3 separate regions of the Homo sapiens genome follow, and all the other regions are linked to region 2. The links come from fine-mapping of genetic effects on gene expression. A gene starts in region 2. Each other region holds a variant in brackets. All regions are shown on one strand. Distances are from middle to middle.

Region 1 (4,247 bases), 37 kb after region 2:
ATCTGTGTGTATATGTATTTTTAGATTTTCTAAAAATTACAGATATCTTTGAGAATCGGAGAAAAGCTGTGTATCCTCTTTCTAGTAAAGTACCCATACAAACATTGTTATGCTTTTTTTCGTTTCGTTTTTGTTTTTTTGTTTTGTTTTTGAGACAGGGTCTTGCTGTGTCAACCAGGCTAGAGTGCAGTGGTGTGATCTCAGCTCACCGCAACCTCCACCTCCTGGCCTCAAAGCAGTTCTCCTGCCTCAACTTCCTGAGTAGCTAGGACTACAGGCATGTGCCACCAAGCTCGGCTAATTTTTAAATTTTTTTGTTGAGATGAGGTCTCACTATATTGCCCAGGCTGGTTTCAAGCTCCTGGGCTCAAGCCATCCCCCAGCCCTGACCTCCCAAGGTGCTGGGATTACAGATGTGAGTCACTGTGCTCAGCCCATACAATTTTACATACACTTAAGGAGTCCACACACCTCCCATGCCTCCTTAAGCTTATGCATGGACCCCAGAATAAGGTTTTCAGGATCCCAATTATTCAAATCTGAGAGATCTCTGAATTTCTTACTTCGTAAGTCATGCTTTACTTTGCTATGATTTTTTTCACTTAGCCCCAGGAATATCAATACGAAAGACACAGGATAAATCAGGAATGGGAAATTGTAAGTTGATAGTGGGATTATGTTAAGGGACAAATTTAACAGTTTTTAAACTCTTTATGAGATTTGTCTGTCTTTTGGATTACTTTACATTGGAAATTATTGCTTTACAGATACTTCATGTTTTATAATACTACTTTCAGAGATTATCGTGATGCTTATTCAGTCATTTTTTAAAACCCTAAACCCTTTCTTTTTCTTCAGATGTGGCACCATTTATTGAGTTTCTGAAGGCCATACAAGATGGAACAATAGTTTTAATGGGAACATACGATGATGGAGCAACCAAGTATGTAAACTTTACAGAACTTTTTGGAACTATAATTTGTAATTATAAAAGCAATACATTTTCATTAAAAAAAAATCTGTAACATAGAGCAAAGTAATCAAACTACCAGGTAAACACAACTAACAATTTTTGTTTTTACTTTGCCTCCTTCCTGGTTTTATATGTAAATGTTTATCACACATATATTGTCATGAAATTAGAATCACATCATATGTAACATTTTTTATACTTTTATGTTTTGTTTTTTAACATTCTGAAATTGTTTTTCCTAGCATTAATATTCTTCAATAGCATTTTTATGGTTCATCAGCAGTTATGGGCTCACCTTTAAAGTTTCCCTATTATTATGTCATTAGGGTAAATTTCAAGAAATGGAGTTAATTGTCAAAGATACAGGTGTGCTATATTTTAAATAATTTTAATATATAGTAGTTTTATAACTTTTTCTTAAAATAGTATATGTTGTAAAAATTTGGAAAATTATAGAAAAGCGCAAAGAGACCAAGTTCCAGTCCATCTCACTACCCAGTGTAAACATTGATGATATTTTAGTTTCTATTCCAGATGACTTAAGACACATTTTTTGGCATTAAATATTTAGAATGCTAGTATTTATAGCATATCTCTTCACTTACGTGGTGAATATTTCCCCTTATTATTAAATATTCTTTATAAAAAATTGTTTATGCCTGCCTAGTCTGGTTTTTAAAATGTCATGATTTATAACCTGTTTAATGGGTTGCCTATTGCTGGACCCAGACTAGTTCCAATTTGCATACTTAGCACAATAGACTATCTTAGAAATGTTTGAACAGTCCATGTCTATGTCTTTAAGATAGACTTCTTTTTTTTAAAGTGGAAATGATTAATTAAAGGATGTGCATGTTTTTAAAAATGGATTTTAAAAATTTTTTTACCAATTTTATATTTTTCTCAGAAGTTCCATGGCACCAATTGTTAATTTTTTTAAGTTTCAATTTTAAGAGTTTGAAAAGGTATCTTATTTTAATATGCCTTTATTATTGAGATTGGATTTTTTTCACAAGTGGTTTTTTTTTCTTTTGCCTTTTTATGTAAATTGTCTTTTGACCATTCGAGTTGGCCTATCTTGACTTGTAAGACCCCTTCACGTTTTAAGGATATTAACCATTTCTAATGTAAAAAGAAATGTATTTATTGTACATTATTTGCTTTTAATTTTGTTAGTGTAGGGTGCTTTTTGAATTTTAGAATTTTAGACTAATGCCTATATAGTCTATGTATTTTTCTATCACTCTCCTTGTATACTTGAGAAGTATTTTTCCACCTCCAGGTTAGATATTTAGTAGATTTTCTCTTCCAGTGATTTCACTGTTGTCATGTATTTTTAAAAACCCATTTGTAATTTCCCCATGACACACAATGCCTATGTTCTTATGTAGATTTGGCTTTATCTCTGGAATTTCTGTTCTGTTCCATT[CA/A]CTTGACCTGTTTATCTCTGTTCCAAAAAGACACTATTTCAATTATTTTAAAATTGTTTTATAAAAGTAATTGTACTTCATGCCTCTCTGGTTGAGATTAAATCCCCTTTAATGTTCTTCTTTCTAGAAAAAAATAATTTTTTCTCTGACTTTTCTTCAGATGACTTATCAAGGATAAAAAACATCCTTTATAGATTTTAATTGACAGAGCTTTAATACTACAAGATTTATAGATTTTATAGATTTTAATTGACAGAGCCTTAATACTACAAGATTTATACAGAAATTTGTATTTTTATGTATTGATTTTTATAAATGTATTATTTTATAGCTACATTATCACAGATTTACATGAAAACAGTGATACTTTATAAATGGTTGTAAGCTGAAGTAATTTCATTGACATTGTGCGTTTTATCTGGTTCAACTAAGAATATATTAAATCCATAAATTGAAGGTTAACATAAAACTCGCCTATTCAAGCATTTTCATCTACCTAAATAGAATGAAACAGGATGTAATTAGGCTCTCATCAAAAAACAGGTAACTTGCTATTTGCTTTTGCTGAGAGAATAGGCTATTACGTGTAAAATTTGAAGTTTTAACATTAAAAAGAAAAGGCCCCACTTTTCTGACTTGACAAACATGACCTCCGTTTTTCACCAGATTATTTTGTTATACCTGATGGGAATCAAAATTGCTCCCCTTAACCTGCTAATATGCTAATAATAAATTATAGCCACAACTAAGAACTAGGGGAGGAATGATGTTTACTCTTCAACTGCTATTTTTTGGTGCCCATTAAATGCACCAAAAGCAGCTTTGGAAGAGAGTTCAACCTCTAGGGCAAAAGGAAAAATCTAAACTTTAATTTCTTTACGTTTGGTCACTTGGTCAATATATGATTCATCTGTGAATTTAAATGAATTGAGTTGTATTAGTTTGGGGCACACGAATTTATATTTCAAATATTTCCTTTTCCTAAATACCAGTAAAAGAAATTGTAAGCATCATATCTTTTATACTGAAATGGACAACATCCTTAAGAAAGGCAATCTACATCTAATATATATATAACCCTTTTATCTTGGCAGGTGTCTAATTGTGGCACATTTGCAGTGATTTACCAGTTGTGTTATATACCCTCTCTTATATATGAATAGAAATTCTGCTTACTGCTGCTGATGTATTATGGCTTTTCCTTATTTAAGGCCATTGAATTTTACCTCGTTTTCTTCCACTTATACTCAAGAAAGTTAAGTGCGTACACTGAATGTCCCTGCTCTTTCCAAGAGAGAAAGTTGGGTGGCATGTTAACCAGAGAAAGCAGGACCCAGCTGACTCACTCACTCTCTCTCTCTCGTCGTCTCTGATCCTAGTTTCTCTTAATCATGATGAGCCTGCTTTGCAGTGCTATGAACTTCAGCAGATTGACTAGGACTGATCTCCATCACATTATTTCCCAGAGTGTGTTTGGTAGAACCCCTGTCCTTTACAAGTACATATAATGGTCAAAGAAGTTTGAGGATGGTACCTTATATTTTGCCCCTTTTCGGGATTCACAATGAAAGGCTCTGAAGTTCTGCCCTAAAGAAACATCTTTTCCTTTGTTAATCATGGTGTTTCTTGATTCTGTGAAGCCCATTTAAAAAACAAGATAGAGAAAAACTTACATCTAAGAAAACTTAACACTTCAGGGAGTACAGTTATCTAATGATACCTACTTTCCACCCCGACCCTCACTAAAATAAGTTGTTCTTTGGTTATAAAGGAGATAATGGTTTGAATGAGCAAGCTAAACTTGCCAATTGTATTCTTCCTTTTGGAGAGAATACTCTATGACA
Region 2 (4,247 bases):
TCCTAAAGAAGTGATTTACCAATGTTAAAAAAATTGAAACCCATATTAAGAAATATAATTTCTACTGTATCCAGGACATAGACACACAGACACTCACCCACACATGATGCTGTACAAATGTTTCATGAAGAATACTTATCCTGAATTTATGCTTTGAACTGTTTTTTTTTTCTATTTTTCAGTGAATCAACAGCAACAAAATGTTGGTTGTGACCCATTGTTATTAATTTCATTACCTACCAAAGGGTTCTAAGCTATATCTTATGGTCAGTGGAGAATAGGCTACTAACACATTAAACTTTATGCACAGGAATTGTTTCAGGTGTGGTGCTATAAGAATATGTCACATGTAATTTCCAATCTGGTTGGCTCGGTTACAGAGCAGATTGCTCTTTCAGAAATACACCGTGACCTCCCTACTCAAGAGGCTTCATAAACTCTTTCAGTGAGACATAGCAGTCTAGGAGAGGCATGTGTACAGTAAGTGTTATGATTTTTTGGTACTATAATAAGCAAAGTGCCTTTTTGTTTATTTGGAGCTACATGAAGCTAGGCCGGAATTCCAGCTTCATAACTTACTATCTTGTATTTTTGAGCAAGATATTTAAACTCAGTTTTGGAGTCTTAGTTTTTTGATTTAAGTAATACACAAATAGCATAATATTGGCACATGGAAGACAATGAGAATTCATTTCATGCTTTCTCCCCTGATCACGGATCACAAACTCCAGAATTCATAGTTACTATTAGTTTGTGTGTTTTATATTTTTGGAGGAAAGCTAAAATTTGGTAGATTATTAATTCTATATTAACACACTATAGTCAAACCCTATTTTTAAATGCAATTTAATTTCTGCAACCACTGATGATCCCAATATTCTGTCAAATACTAGGTAACAGTTATTCATTATTTTAGAATATGGATCTGAATTATGAAATAATTTTGCATTCTAAGGTCTTATGTAGTAAGATTTGGATTAACTTCCCAATTATCAACACAATTGTAGGAAATCTCCTGAGAAAAAATATTTCTAACGATTGTGTATCTTATAATTTAAAAAATAAACGTGACTTGGAAAATGCAAGGACTACTGTTCTTCTTGGGTGGTGCATTAAAGGTGATCAGAATTCTAATGACGCTGGACAGTAGGATTTTCAGAATCAGTTTCCTAGGGTTCAAGAAGTCAAACGGCAAATAACCCAAGGTCCTTGGTTGATCTGACCATCTCAGCTATCTCAAGATATATAAGATGACCTAACTGGCGCATCTCTAGGATGGGTGGGTCATTTAAAATGTTCTGCCCTTGAGGCTGGGATTTTGTGCGTGTAAACGGTGGGGAGACGGCGGTGACACATTTTTCTCCCTCCCGTAGTGCCACCCGGCGCAGGGCCGCTGCGGCGGCGGCAGCTCCCACGTGGCAAGTTCAGATTGTGCAGCGCCTGGCCGGGGGCGGTGGGCGGGACCGCAGACCCCTCCCTCCGCTCTCCGGCCCTTCCCTCTGGCCGGCCCGGGCGCCCGCTTGGTCCTCCACCGCCAGGGGGCGGGCGCGGCTTCCCGGCGGCGGGGGCCCATTGGTCGCGGCCGGGAAGCGTGGGAGGAGGCCCAGCGGCGAGCTGGCTTTCTCCTGGCCACTTGCCGGGGTGAGGGGCAGCCGGAGGAGTCCGAGAGGAAGCGGAGGCGCGAGCTGGAGGCGGCGGCTCCCGTCGGCCTCCGGCAGGACTGAGCGCTGGGAGGCCGGAAGGCGGGCGCGCGCGGCGGAGAGGCGGGCGGGAGGCCGGTGAGACGGCTGGGAGGCGGACGGAGCCGGGGCTCAGGTTCGGGGAGGGATGGAGGAGGCCGGGGAAGCCAGACGCCCACCTACGACTTCAGCCTCCGCGCACTGCGGTCACCGGCCGGGGGCGGGCCCCGGGCCCGGCCGCGTTGTCACGGCGTGTCCGGACGTTGGAGAGGGCGCAGGCGGGACTGGGGTCCCGGAGAGCCGCTGGCCGGGGTTCCCGGCCGCCGCCCCGGCGTGGGCATCCCCGGGCTCCGCGGAGACGGGGCGGCGTCTGCACCTGGCGCTGGCACTCGGCGCCCCGGCCTGGGGCGGGCACCTGGGTCGCATCTTCCCCAGGTTGGCTGTGGCTCGCGCCCCTGCAGCGTGTAGGCTGAGAGCTCCGAGAGGTGGGGACGGAGTTGGGTGTTGCATTCCAACTCCATAGGGGGCCGTTTTGACTCACTTGTAAAGTTTTAGTGTCGCCTATACTAGAGGTACTTTTGGTTTTTTACAAGCTATCCAGCCCTTTGATGTTTGGTGTCTCTTCTTTTTCTTCCTATTTGTTTGCTACTGCTCTCACAGCTCGGGACCACGGATGATGATTAGTGGCCCTAGATCTGAATATGTGAGTGACGGATTGGCAATTTGAGATTGAGAGCTCCAGCTGTTTTACTTGTGGGAGGAGCGGTTTCCATCATCCTCTACCTTTTTTTTTTTTAAGAAAAAATATTATTGCCTGTAATATAGAACTGCTATCTAATTGATAGGACTTTTCCTTTGTTTCTTTTTGGCCAACATGGTGAAACCTCGTCTCTACTAAAAAATAAAAAAATTAGCCAGGTGTATGTATCCATATATATATATGTATGTATGTATCCATATATATGTATGTATCCATATATATGTATGTATCCATATATATGTATGTATCCATATATATGTATGTATGTATCCATATATATGTATGTATCCGTATATATGTATGTATCCATGTATCCATATATATGTATGTATCCATATATATATGGATACAATGACATAAATAATATTAGATTGCTTACTGTGTACTAGGCACTGCCAAATGGTTTCGTGTGCTCATTTATTCTCACAACAGCTCAGTGAATAAGTCCCTTTATCTTTTCTAGTTTTACAGATGGAAATATGAACTCCCGAGAGTAAAGGTCAATGCTGATAGCAGAGGCCCCGACCCCTTGGACTTGTGGCCAATTTGCAGTTACGTTTTCTTAAGTCTTGGGAACCGTTACTATTAGTCATACAGTATCTTACAGAGTACCAGCAGATCTCTATTGAATTTAGAAAATAAAAGTTAATCACTTACTGAAAGCCATTTAACAAGAAATTGGCAGAATCAGCAAATCAGCATCCGGTTTTGGTCACTTCATCGACCTGTACCTCTTTCTAGAGGCTACTAGTAGTCTCTTGTGTTTCTTGGCTGTTTACCAATAAAGTCACAAGGTTTTCAGTTTTATACAGGTATTAGAAGCTTTGTTTCACAGATTCTTGTAATGTTTTCTCAACTCAATAAAGACTAGCATTTCTTCATAGGAAGAAATAAGAAGAGTTGGAGCCAATAAAAGGAGTTCAGTCCAGCAGTTCTCAACCTGAGGACCTCTCTGAATTACCAATGGGAACTTTGTAAGAGGGACACAGGACAGGTTCCTCAAAATCCTCATTGTAAGGGGCTTCTGTTTCAAAAGGGAGTAAAAATAAGACACTACTGGCTTAAAGTGACTTTAAAAATAAACTTAATGGATGTTTTATTACAATTACAGATTTTTAATGTGGATTGCTGCCTTAAGCATTGTCAACTAATCTTTCATAATTTATGAAGATACATTAAAAAGGAAAAGGAAATTGGAAAAGACAGCCAAAAGGCTAAGAGGCTATGGAATGGCAAAAAGTAATGTTCCCTGAGGGGGTATCAGAAGACTCATATATTTTCCACCATATATTTTAGGTTTTGAACGATTCATTTTTCAAAAATTTTTATACTCTTAAAAATACTGGAGTGCCTACCATGTACCAGTAATTGTAGATATCATGGATACTATGAATAAGACAGCCTGGGCACTCACAAAGCTACTTTATTTTCTCTAAAGCAGGGAATCTTTTTTATTTTTATTTTTATGCCCATTTCTTAAAGCTGAAAGGTGCAAGACCCAAATAGCAAAAGATTTTTATGTTAGCGCTGAGCTAGATAGATTTTTGTGCGACCTTGGTATAATAGCAAAAGTTTGTCTTGAATTTAGTCCAGAAGCGTCTCTGTTCTTGGGATCAGATGATCAGGATTTGAAGCATTGATTCTGTATTTAGTTATTTCAAGAGTGGCATTGACTAAATTACTTAATATCATGCAGTCCTTTTTAATCTGATTGAGTAGACTGAACCAGGTAATTTCCCAAAATCTTTGAACTTTTAAAAGGTTTTGTACTTTCTTTTAATGCAATTCTTTGAGACACAATCGGCTGA
Region 3 (4,247 bases), 78 kb after region 2:
TGTGTTTTTAAAAGACCTTTAGTCCATTCTACTTTTCTTGAAGACGGAGGACCATAAGGGATATAAAGGTTTCACTGAATACTAAGAGCCTGAAAAACTGCTTGGCTGATTTTACTAATAAAGGCTCACCTGTTATCAGACTGTATTGAGGTGGGAAGGCTAAACTGAGGAATTATGTCTGACAGAAGGGAAGAAATGACTGCGGTGGCCTTCTCAGACCCTATAGGAAAGGCCTCTACCTATCCAGTGAAAGTGTCTACCTAGACTAAGAGGTATTTTAGTTATCTGACTCAGGGCATGTTGAGTAAAGCTAATTTGCCAGTCCTGGGCGGGGCAAATCCTCGAGCTTGATGTGTAGGGAAGGGAGGGGGGCCTGAATAATCCCTGAGGAGTAGTAGAATAGCAGATGGAACACTGAGAAGTTATTTCCTTGAGGATAGATTTCCACAATGGAAAGGAAATGAGAGGTTCTAAGAGGCGAGTTAGTGGCTTGTACTATAGCATAACCTGCCTTTGCTGGTGTGTGGTGATTAGGCCTGGTGGAACCGCCATCAATAAATCAAGCGTGATCAGGGTGAGGAACAGGAAAGAAGGAAATTTGGGGAAATGGGGTGAATGTCAGGTGGATCAGAGAGATACAGTAATGGGGGTCAGGTGTGGTATCAGGAATAATGTGAGAGGCCGGATTGAAGTCTGGGCCAGGAACAACGGTAATTGTGGGAGACTCAACAAAGAGTGAGTATACCTGAAGGAGCCGGGAAGCAGAAAGCATATGCGTCAGGTATGAGGAAGAAAATAGATTTTGGAAGTTATGAGAACTGTAGAGAGTGAGTTGAGCATAGTTTGTGATTTTGAGGGCCTCTAAAAGTATTAAAGCAGTGGCAGCCACTGCATGCAGACATGAGGGCTAGGCTAAAACAGTAAGGTCAAGTTGTTTGGACAGAAAGGCTACAGGGTGTGGTCCTGGCTCTTGTGTAAGAATTCTGACCATGCTAACCATGCCTAGGAAGGAAAGGAGTTGTTGTTTTGTAGAAGGTGCTTGAGTTTGAGAGATCAGTCGGACCCAATTGGCAGGGAGAGCACATGTGTTTTTATGAGAATTATGTCGAGATAGGTAACAGATGAGGAAGAAATTTGGGCTTGATTGAAGTAATGGGGGCTGTCTGTGAAGCTTTGTGGCAGTACAGCCTAGGTAATTTGCTGAGCTTGATGGGTGTCAGGGTCAGTCCAAGTGAAAGCGAAGAGAGGCTGGGATTAAGGGTGCAAAGGAATAGTAAAGAAAGCATGTTTGAGATCTAGAACAGAATAATGGGTTGTAGAGGCAGGTATTGAGGATAGGAGAGTATATAGGTTTGGCACCATGGAGTGGCTAGGCAAAACAATTTGGTTGATAAGGCACAGATCCTGAACTAACTTGTAAGGCTTGTCTGGTTTTAGGACAGGTAAAATGGGGGAATTGTAAGGAGAGTTTATAGGCTTTAAAAGGCCATGCTGTAGCAGGCTTTAATCTTTTTAAAGCGTGCTGCGGGATGGGATATTGGCGTTGAGTGGGGTAAGGGTGATTAGGTTTTAATGAGATGGTAAGGGGT[A/G]CATGATCGGTCGCCAAGGAGGGAGTAGAGGTATCTTATACTTGTGGGTTAAGGTGGGGGGATACAAGAGGAGGACGCAAAGGAGGCTTTGGATTGGAAAGAAGGGCGGCAATGAGATATAGCTGTAGTCCAGGAATAGTCAGGGAAGCAGATAATTTAGTTAAAGTGTCTCAGCCTAATAAGGGAACTGGGCAGGTGGGGATAACTAAAAAGGAGTGCTTAAAAGAGTACTGTCTAAGTTGGCACCAGAGTTGGGGAGTTTTAAGAGGTTTAGAAGCCTGGCCATCAATACCCACAACAGTTATGGAGGCAAGGGAAACAGGCCCTTGAAAAGAAGGTAATGTGGAGTGGGTAGCCTCCGTATTGATTAAGAAGGGGACGGACTTACCTTCCACTGTGAGAGTTACCCAAAGCTCGGTGTCCGTGATGGTCTACGGGGCTTCCGAGGCAATCGGGCAGCATCAGTCTTCAGCCACTAAGCCGAGAAGGAGTCGGTCAGAAAGCCTTGGGCCAGAGTTCCAGGGGCTCTGGGAGTGTCTGCCAGGTGAGTTGAACAGTCCGATTTCCAGTGGGGTCCCGCAAAGATGGGACACGGCTTAGGAGGAATCCTGGGCTGCAGGCATTCCTTGGCCTGGTGGTCAGATAGATTTCTGGCACTTGTAGCAAGCTCCTGGGGGAGGAGGTTCTGGAGGAACGCCTGGCTGCTGCGGTTCAGGCGTTTGGAAGTTCTTGTGTGCTGGAGATGTGGCTGGGGTTTGTCTCACAGTGGAGGCAAGGAATTGCAACTTTTTTCTATTATTGTACACCTTGAAGGCGAGGTTAATTAAATCCTGTTGTGGGGTTTGAGGGCCGGAATTTAATTTTTGGAGTTTTATTTAATGTCGGGAGCAGATTGGGTAATAAAATGTATTTTGAGAATAAGACGGCCTTTTGACCTTTTAGGGTCTAGGGCTGTAAAGAGTCTCAGGGTTGCTGCCAAACGAGCAATGAACTGGGCTGGGTTTTTATATTTGATGAAAAACAGCCTAAACACTATCTCATTTGGGATAAAGAAAAAGGAGCATTAATGTTGACTATACCTTTGGCTCCAGCCACCTTTTTAAGAATAAATTGCTGGGAAGGTGGACTAGGGCTAGTCACAGAACGAAACTGTAAGCCAGACCAGGTGTGAGGAGGGGAAGCGATCAAAAGATTACAGGGTGGAGGAGCGGAGGCTGAGGAAGAATTGGGACCTAGCTTGGGCTGGAGAGGAGGGGAGAGGTCAGATGGGTCTGTAGAAAAGGAAGATTAGAAAGACTCAGCGATGCTTGGGGTTGGGACTGAGGGGACAGGCGGGAGGGAAAGAAGGAAGATTTGGGACGAGTTGCACTGGGCACAGAGACTAGGAAGGGACTGATGTGTAAAAGAATGCCTGGACGTCAGGCACCTCAGACCATTTGCCCATTTTATGACAAGAATTATTTAGATCTTGTAGGATGGAAAAATTGAAAGTGCCGTTTTCCAGCTATTTGGAACTACTGTCGAGTTTGTATTGGGGTCAAGCGGCATTGCAGAAGAAAATAAGGCATTTAGGTTTTAGGTCAGGTGTAAGCTGAAGAGGTTTTAAGTTCTTGAGCACACAGGCTAAGGGAGAAGAAGGAGGAATGGAGGGTGGAAGGTTGCCCATACTGAAGGAAGCAAACCCAGAGAAAAGAGAGCGTAGAGACACGGAGGGAAGGGGTTTGGGGGTTCTTGTCCCCTAGAAAAGCGGGACTTGCTGCTAAGGGTGAAGGAGAAGGGGTTGAGGGGTACTTGCCCCTGCCCCAGGAAAGGCAGAGAAGGGGGTAGAGACAAGGAGAGAAGGGCTTGGGCTACTTACCCTGTCCCCGGAAAAGCAGAGAAGGGGTAGAGACAAGGAGAGAAGGGGTTGGGGTACTTGCCCTGTCCCCGGAAAAGCAGAGAAGGGGTAGAGACAAGCAGAGAAGGGGTAGAGACAAGGAGAGAAGGGGTTGGGGTACTTGCCCTGTCCCCGGAAAAGCAGGGAAGGGGTAGAGACAAGCAGAGAAGGGGTAGAGACAAGGAGAGAAGGGGTTGGGGTACTTGCCCTGTCCCCGGAAAAGCAGAGAAGGGGTAGAGATGAGGAGAGAAGGGGTTGGGGTACTTACCCTGTCCCCGGAAAAGCAGGGAAGGGGTAGAGACAAGGAGAGAAGGGGTTGGGGTACTTGCCCCTTCCCCAGAAAAGCGGGACTTGCCGCTAAGGGTGAAGGACTGAGGCAGGCGTCCCTGCGTGGTCTGACACCCTTGAAACGTGGGTGTATAATCAGAGAGGTGTCCCTGCAATGATTAAACACCAAGAGAAGGCTGCCTTCCCAGTCCGTGACCGGTGCCGGAGTTTTGGGTCCACAGATAAAACGTGTCTCTTTTGTCTCTACCAGAAAATGGAAGGAATTGAAATTAAGAGAAGGGAGAGATTGAAGTGTAGCGCCAAGATTGAAAGGAGAAAGAGGTTGAGGGATAGTGAGGGAAGTTGGAGAAGAGAGTAAAAAGAGGCCACTTACCGGATTTGAAATTGGTGAGATGTTTCTTGGGCTGGTCGGTCTGAGGACCTGAGGTCATAGGTGGATCTTTCTCACGGAGCAAAGAGCAGAAGGACGGGGGATTGATCTCCCAAGGGAGGTC

Evidence for each region. PIP is the estimated chance that this variant, and not a neighbour inherited with it, causes the effect.
Region 1: its variant is the best candidate, but not a certain one, in a credible set for the expression of FAM3C in whole blood (INTERVAL, PIP 0.75).
Region 3: its variant is the best candidate, but not a certain one, in a credible set for the expression of FAM3C in whole blood (INTERVAL, PIP 0.76).

The regions. Positions count from the first base shown.
Region 1 is chr7:121,356,739-121,360,985 of GRCh38, reverse strand. FAM3C (FAM3 metabolism regulating signaling molecule C) reads left to right here. Exons shown (of 10, transcript NM_014888.3): 8 at 859-943. Among named protein-coding and RNA genes, the nearest start is that of WNT16, 30 kb to the right of the region's middle. The variant CA/A (reference allele first, on the strand shown) is at 2,403.
Region 2 is chr7:121,393,693-121,397,939 of GRCh38, reverse strand. It overlaps FAM3C (FAM3 metabolism regulating signaling molecule C), which reads left to right and starts at 1,632. Exons shown (of 10, transcript NM_014888.3): 1 at 1,632-1,778. RefSeq lists silencers at 1,268-1,327, 1,368-2,197 and enhancers at 1,425-2,009, 2,010-2,595.
Region 3 is chr7:121,315,845-121,320,091 of GRCh38, reverse strand. No RefSeq gene overlaps it. Among named protein-coding and RNA genes, the nearest start is that of WNT16, 11 kb to the left of the region's middle. The variant A/G (reference allele first, on the strand shown) is at 1,590.